Homo sapiens: one gene and its partner. The protein of the gene in region 2 purifies or fractionates together with the protein of the main gene of each other region. This does not show direct contact. Each region holds a gene or a part of one and is shown on either strand. Other genes may lie near its edges. The genes, in order: MBNL1 and RFWD3.

The links.
Region 1: the proteins of RFWD3 (region 2) and MBNL1 purify together in Homo sapiens (affinity purification with mass spectrometry, with the first as the bait; one large-scale study listed by BioGRID). This does not show direct contact.

What each region holds. Positions count from the first base shown.
Region 1 is NC_000003.12:152,267,429-152,271,728, forward strand, and holds the start of MBNL1 (muscleblind-like protein 1), read left to right. Parts: upstream 1-1,500; 5' UTR 1,501-1,664; exon of another isoform or gene 1,665-2,350; intron 2,351-4,300. UniProt on the Homo sapiens protein: Mediates pre-mRNA alternative splicing regulation. Acts either as activator or repressor of splicing on specific pre-mRNA targets. Inhibits cardiac troponin-T (TNNT2) pre-mRNA exon inclusion but induces insulin receptor (IR) pre-mRNA exon inclusion in muscle.
Region 2 is NC_000016.10:74,639,054-74,643,077, forward strand, and holds part of RFWD3 (E3 ubiquitin-protein ligase RFWD3), read right to left. Parts: intron 1-4,024. UniProt on the Homo sapiens protein: E3 ubiquitin-protein ligase required for the repair of DNA interstrand cross-links (ICL) in response to DNA damage. Plays a key role in RPA-mediated DNA damage signaling and repair.

The DNA of each region.
Region 1 (4,300 bases), on a different chromosome or scaffold from region 2:
AGTGTAGGGACTGTCTTATCCATTCTTGCATCACTGGCATAGTAGGCACTAAATGTAGTTGCTGAATGCTTAATAAGAGGAATGGAAGTCTTCGTAGCTTGGGGTAGATACTAATGGGCAGATAGAAAGTTCCCATCCCTGTTCTCTGAGAAAGTGTCAGTGTTCTTTTAGTTTGCTTAAACTGTGTGGGTACTTGAGTCCTTTTAAACGATTAACGCTGGGAAGAGGCACCATTTAATTAATTAATTTGTTCTGGAAGGGATCAGTGTACAATTTTAACTCAGTGCTTTGTGGATCTAGCTAAAGGTCAAGAACTAAAGTCGGCTATTAGTGCCTCTGGAAGATATTTCTGCACTTTAGCACCTTTCTGATGTTTTTCCTTCACCTCGAGCTGGCCTCACTCTCTTCAACAAAACCGAACCTGCAGGAAGAATGTTGTACCATATCCAGCATTTTTGTCCCAACAAACATGGGACAAACGTTTTTCACTAGAATCATCCTTGAACAAGTTATCCGAATTCCTTACATTCAAAGGAAATCCTGCCCCCAGTCTCCAAAACTTCATCACATCACAGACGTTCAGGATTCTTTCCATTCAAAGCAAAGCCAAGTTACATCTTATAGCACCCAGTGAATTATGATATGGGGCTGCGGTTTATTTGCTCTGGCGACAATATGGCTTACTTGCCGTGGAATATCCCGGTATTTCAGAAGTAACATATTATTTTTAAAGAGGGAGCTTTGCTTTCTCTAAATCACATGGTGCAAAGTTGGGAATACAGTGGCCTGTAAATTACAAATATTATTTACAAACTAGAAGGAAAGCTGACATGTGTTTGTGCCTGTGTGACAGTTTCACTAAGGAATTCCAAAACTGTGGATAGCCTGTTACTTGAGAAAAATACACGGTGGCAGTCTTGCAGATGTTTTTCCCGCCTGTTAGCCCTCCAGGTTCAAAAACTGTTTGGTGCATTTTAAGGCGGCAGTCTCACCAGATCGCAGGATTCTAGTCTAATTGGCTTCTAACCTTCAATCTAACCTTGCCGGCTTCCTTGCAAAGCCCGGTGCAAGGGCCTCTTTCAAAATGAACCCACTGGTGTGCCTAGCAGTCGGTAGAAGAAGCGGGAGGGCGTCCGGTCTGCACGCCCGCCGCGAGGTTACAATGCTGAACGCATGAGATGGAAGATACCAACGGGAGGCCGAGGGGATCCACGGCGCCCGCGCGGGCTCCGGCTTCCTCCTGCTCTCGGCGCCGCTGGGCGACCGCCCATGACCCGCTCTTGCGGGCTCTGTCCGGTTGACAGGCGACCCTGTGGCCCGGGGAAGCGCGGGAGGGCGCCGGCGGAAAGTTGAAGAGCGTTTTTCTCGCCGCCGCGTGCATTAGGAGCTCGACGAGTCCGCCCTGGGCTTCCTGGTGGGGCTGGGCGGGCGGGGGAGGGGCCGCGCAGCAGCAGCGGAAGCCAGACCTCGGCGATAAGAGGCTGCACAGCGACATGCAACAGTCTTTTCACTGCAGCTGAATGAGTTGTGGCGCCCACAATGCTCCCATGACAAGGAGCTGACAAGTTCCATTTTCCGTCGCGGGCATCTTGGAATCATGACTCCCACAATGCCTTGGGCACTTGGTCGACAGTGGGGCCGCCTCTGAAAAAAAAATGTGAGAGGTAAGTTTCCATTTTCACAGTTTCCCCGCGCCGCTTCATTGTTCGGACTCCGGCGGGTCTGCCCGTGGCTGAAGGAGGAAGTGCGAGGAGGTGCTCGCCGGCCGCGGTTCTCCCGGGCAGGGGCGGGCCGCTCGCGGTAGTTGGTTTCGCGTCCCTCAGCACCTCCTGCCCGGGGGAAGGCGGGAGGGTGAGCCGCAGCCGCTCCTGCGCCCTTCCCTGCCGCGGGCTCTGCGGACGCTGTCACGGCACAGCCCGCGCACGGCTTGGCAGCCCAGCGGGACCCAGGGAGAAACAGGGGGGCGAGAAGAGAAACAGGTGCGTGCAAGTGTACTCACAACTTAATGACCTTTGTCGGGGGAAGGTGTGAGTCCCTCTGAGTCGAGCGGCGCGCGGGTCTTCCCGGCGGCTCCCGCATCCCTGGCCCCGGGGCTGCCATCCCGCCCGGTTTTCATCTGGGCCAAATATGTGCACGCAAAGGTTAATTCTCTGCTTGCTACCCATAAATTACGCATGACATGTTTAGCTGGGCTGCCTTATATGGAGAGTGCTGTATTTCAGGCCAGTTTGCCTTTTGCCAAGTTTACAGGGCGGAAGACGCCCTGTAGGAGAGGGCTGCCTCCTCCTTTTCTTCTTCTTCTTTTTTTTTTCATCGTTTTGTAGTGCGTCACTCAAAAACTGTAAGAAAAGTAAGTATAGAAGCTCTTTGGGTGGAGCCGCAGTTGGTTGAATTGCTTTCATGAAAGGTTGAAAAGAATGAAAAGTAGTTAGTACTTGGGTTCTGGTTTTTAGACAAAAGCAGGACAAATATGTAGCCACCCCCCAACTTTTTTTTTTTTTTTTAAACGGAGCCGGAATCTGTTATTGGTAGTAATGTGTCATGTGAGAATACTTTGATTCCAGAGCCTGTAACACGAGCAGGTATATGGTGGCGCTTATGCCTTCCCCTCGCACAGCACTTTACAACTACAGGGGTGTTGCTGCCAGAGTAATATTGTATTCTTAAGGCTCTCTGGGGCCGGGAGAGTATGCGGCTGTTGGGATTCTGGGGTGTATTTCCGTGGAGTATGTCTCCCCAGGATTAAAGTTAAGAAGCTGCCGGAAAGGTTGTTGCCGCTGACTTCACTTTGTGTGCCCACCAGCACAGGCACAAGTCATAGCAGATGGATGGCAAACTCTGCCATATACTCTGAGGAGTTTCTTAAATTAATACGCTAGGAGAGAAGTCATAATTAATGCTTTTAGACTTTCGAGCCCTCTGCAGCGTGCTTTGAAATACTACACCGGTGGACACTATGTCCCTTCCTCCTGGGTTTGAACACAGTGTCTGTTTATACACAGAGGGTGTTTAGTACCTAAGTATTCTATACCAGCACAAGAGAGCCACTCCACAGTTATCTCTCTGTGTGGATTCCTAAGTGTGTTGGTGTTTCTCCTTGCTGTTGAGATAAAATATTATCACCCAGAGAGAAAATGAAAGTTCAACGACTGTAAAATTTATCCCAGGAATGTGCAGTTCAATACTTAGAATGTCTTAGATGTAGTTATAGATAGAGGCACTGAATAAGTTATTTTGTAGCCTGAGAATGCACATCGCTGTCACTTGTATCTTGCTTTCTTAAAGTTGGTGACAACTAAGGCTAAACTTCTTTAGAAAACCTAATGTTCTAGTTTTTATCTGTTTTGTGTATTTGCATGGGAGTTACTTTATTATTATTATTATATTGTTAGGTCTTCTTTGAAAATGTAGGCATAGCTTTTTTAGTCTTATTTGTTTAATGGGGGGTTTCCTTGCTGAAGACTACAAAAGTTGCCTTTTGTGTTTTAAGGAACAGGTTGGGTCAGCAACAGAAAACCTGTTCATCTATAATTATAGTGTCACTTAAGACATAATAATCAGATTTCATTATTACTAAGAGACTCAGAAAAACCTCACATATGCCTAGTTTAATTTTTTTCCTTATGTAACTGTGAACAAATTTGTGTGTAGATACACATCAAGTGTGGTACTCTGCGCAGTCATGCCAAAGAGAAACTGAAGTGTTATATGGTTTGAGATATTATTGCTTGTGTTTACATTTCCACATTTGAGGCAAAGTTAGACTCCAAGTTGAATTCATTAAATTTTGATTCCAACATTCTGTTCTTCCTTTGGGCACAGAATTCCTATGAAATGAAACACTGGGTTTTGTTCCAGAACAAGAACAGACTAACCCAAAATTTCTCCTGGGGGAAAAAAAAAGAGTAAAATTATATTTCTCATTGAAAATTGTATTTCTCATTGAGGAAGGGTGTGTTACTTTATTATATAAAATGCCTTATCTTCATTATAAGAAAAAAATGCCCTTGCATTTGTCACTGTTGCCATACATTAGGCCTGTATTTGATAGATCTATATGGAAACAGAGAATAAATAATCTTGCTGCACCTTCTGGCTTTCTGCTTGGTGATAGATGTGCGGATTAGAGAACATCTCAGGTCTTGGTTAGGAGAAGCTGAAAAGAATAGGTGATTGGGTTTTTAAAATTCTGTATGCAAAGGCATTAGGGTGGGTAGTAGATATGAGAGTCAAAAGAGTGGAGGAAAGAAGTGAAATAGGTTCACGAAGTGATTGGCCCAAAATAAAATCCCATCAACCA
Region 2 (4,024 bases):
TTTTAGCCCGAGTCTCACTCCATTGCCTAGGCTGCAGAGCAGTGGCGTGATCCAGGCTCACGGCTACCTCCGCCCCCCGGGTTCAAGAGATTTCTTGCCTCAGCCTCCCAAGTAGCTGAGATGACCGGCACCTGCCAACACACCCAGCTAATTTTTGTATTTTTAGTAGAGACAGGGTTTCACCATGTTGCCCAGGCTGGTCTCAAACTCCTGGCCTCAAGTGATCCACCTGCCTCAGCCTCCCAAAGTGCTGGGATTACAGGTGTGAGCTACTACACCCAGTGCGCTAAGCCATTTCAATGATTACAACATCACTTACGCAACAGAATTTTCAGCTCCATTATAATCTTATGGGGCCACCATCGTATATGCAATCTGTCATTGACCCAAAGGTCATTATGCAGCACGTGACTGTAAAGTAAAAGGCTAGGCAGGATCTTTATGAAGCAAAATACACTTGTGAAAGACACAAGAAAACAGTGAACAAATGGAAGGATATTACATAATGTTCATGACTGAAAAGACTATCACAAAGATGGTACTTCTCAAGTTACCCTATAATAATTTTTAATGCAATTTCAATCAAGATCCCAAAGGTGTTTTTCATGGAACTTAACAAATTAATTTTAAAAAATTAATATGAAGAACAATGCCAAAAATAGCAAAAAAATACTTTTGCAGAACAAAATGGGGGAACATATATTAAAGCTACAATAAATTATAGCTTGGAATATGTGAGAAAGAATTAACAAAAAGACTGTGGAACAAAAGAGTACAGTGTCTCCTTATCTAGTTTCATTTTCCATGGTTTCTGATATCTGTGATCAACCACAACCTACAAATATCGAGATATGTTGAGAGAGAGATGGAGACCACACTCACATAACTTACTATAGTATACTGGTATAATTGCTCTATTTTATTATTTATTATTGTTAATCTCTTACTGTTCCTAATTTATAAATTATCCTTTAGGTTTGTATGTATAAGAAAAAACATACTACGGTTTCAGGCATTCACTGGGGGCTCTTGAAATGTATTCCTTGTGGCTAAGGGGGGACTACTGTAGCCCATTCATACATGGAAACTTAATTTTTTTTTTTTTTTTTGAAACAGTCTTGCTCTGTTGCCCAGGTTGGAGTGCAGTGGCGTGATCTTGGCTCACTGCAACCTCCGCCTCCTCCCGAGTTCAAGCGATTCTTCTGACTCAGCATCCTGAGTAGCTGGGATTACAGGTGTGTGCCACCACGCCCAGCTAATTTTTGTATTCTTAGTAGAGACACGGTTTCATCATGTTGGTCAGGCTGGTCTCGAACTTCCGACCTTGTGATCCGCCCACCTCAGCCTCCCAAAGTGCTGGGATTACAGGCGTGAGCCAATGCGCCCGCCCGGAAACTTAATTAAGGATAGAAGTAGCAATGAAAATTTGTACAGAAAAATATACTATTTAGTAAATTATAAGTCAGGTGTGGTGGCATGCGCCTGTACTCCCAGCTACTCAGGATGCTGAGGTTGGAGGACTGCTTGAGCCTAGGAATCTGATGGCGCCACTGCACTCTGGCCTTTGTGATAGAGCAAGACCCTGTCTTTAAAAAAAATTTTTTGGCCAGGCGCAGTGGCTCATGCCTGTAATCCCAGCACTCTGGGAGGCCGAGGTGAGTGGATCACGAGGTCAGGAGTTCAAGACCATCCTGGCCAAGATGGTGAAACCCCGTCTCTACTAAAAATACAAAAAATTAGCCAGGCGTGGTGGCGGGTGCCTGTAGTCTCAGCTACTCGTAAGGCTGAGGCAGGAGAATCACTTAAACCCGGGAGGTGGAGGTTGTAGTGAGCTGAGATCACGCCACTGCACTCCAGCCTGGGCGACAGAGCGAGACTCTGTCTCAAAATAAATAAAATTCACAAAGGTATGAAAAAATGAGAAATCTCTCCTTTTTTTTTAAACAAGAAAAGTTTAAGTTAGAAAAGTAATTTGACAATATTTAGGTAAAGCTGAAATTAAATGTGCCCTATAATAAAGCAATTCCATTGCTAGACCTCTCTGCAGCATGGCTAATATTAACAAGTGGAGACAACCTAAATGTCTACCAATGTAAAACACAAACAGATAATTTTTTTTTTTTTTGAAGACAGAGTTTCGCCATTGTTGCCCAAGCAGGAGTGCAATGGTGCGACCTCGGCTCACCACAACCTCTGCCCCCTGGGTTCAAGCTATCCTCCTGCCTCAGTCTCCCGAGTAGCTGGGACTACAGGTGCGTGCCACCATGCCCGGCTAATTTTTGTATTTTTAGTAGAAATGGGGTTTCACCATGTTGGCCAGGCTGGTCTCCAACTCCTGACCTCAGATGATCCGCCCACCTCAGCCCCTCAAAGTGCTGGGATTATAGGTGTGAGCCACCACGCCTGGCCTAAACAGATTAATTTTGACTAGAGAACTAGAATATTATCAAGAAATTGAAATGAAAAAAACTAGAGTCCCATGTATCAACTAGGATATACTCCCAAAGCATAAAATTAAGCAAAAAAGCAAGCTACAGAAGAAAAAGTTATAATCTAACATAACATTTGCATACAGTATAAAAACTTTCTGGCCGGGTGCAGTGCCTCACGCCTGTAATCTCAGCACTTTGGGAGTCCAAGGCAGGCTGATCACGAGGTCAGGAGTTCCAGACCAGCCTGGCCAACACGGTGAAACCCTGTCTCTACTAAAAATACAAAAAAAATTAGCTGGGCATGGTGAAAGGCGCCTGTAATCCCGGCTACTTGGGAGACTGAGGCAGGAGAATTGCTTGAACCTGGGAGGCGGGAAGTTGTAGTGAGCCAAGATTGCACCATTGCAATCCAGCCTGGGCAACAAGAGCAAAACTCCGTCTCCAAAAAAAAAAAAAAAAAAAAAAAAAACCAAAGAAACCAAAAACCAAAACAAAACTTTCTATATCATACTATGTATAATTTACAAATACATATATAGCTAATCAAATACATAATAACTCTTGGGAATGCTGAACACCTAATTCATGAAAGTAGTTCTCTATGGAATTAAGAACTTAGTTCACAGGAAGACTTCTAGTGTACCTTTTTAAATTTGACACAGAGTCTTGCTCTGTTGCCCAGGCTGGAGTGCAGTGGCGCAATCTCAGCTTACAGTAACCTCCGCCTCCCAGGTTCAAGCGATTCTCGTGCCTCAGCCTCCCGAGTTGCTGGCATTACAGGCACGCACCACCACATCCGGATAATTTTTTGTATTTTTAGTAAAGATGGGGTTTTGCCATGCTGCTCAGGCTGGTCTCAAACTCCTGAGCTCAGGCGATCTGCCTGCCTCAGCCTCCCAGAGTGCTAGGATTTCAGGTGTGAGCCACTGTGCCTGGCCCTTCTACTGAATCTATAATTAACTTCTTCTTCTTTAAAATTTTCTTTCCTTTTTTTCCTTCTTGACCTGGTCAACAGATTTATCTTTATTTTTTTGAGACAGGTTCTTACTCTGTCACCCAGGCTAGAGTGCAGTGGCATGACCATAGCTCACTGCAGCCACAACCTCCTGGGCTCAAGAAATCCTCTCTCCTGAGTAGCTGAGACTACAGGTGTGTACCACTACACACGGATAATTTTTTTCATTTTTATTAGAAACAAGGTCTCACAATGTTGCCCATGCTGCTCTCAAACTCCTGGTCTCAAGCAATCCTCCTGCCTCGGCCTTCCAAAGTGCTGGGATTACAGGCATGAGCCACTACACCCAGCCTATTTATTTTCAAAAAGGCTCAAAGCAATATGGCAAAACATTAAGATTTGATAAAATTGGGTAAAAGGCTGTTCGTTTTATTAGTCTGTATCGGCATTTTGAAACTCTTCACTTTTTCTAATGAGGCTGGAGAGTATACTAATTCCTTATTGTAATCAGTGAATTGTTTTTAAATATAATCACCCATTACAGCCACACGTATAGATTTTGCCTTTTCAACAAAATTCCTCTCTGTACACATCTTCCATTATTTAAAAACGCTACAAGTGAGCATTGGTTGGACCA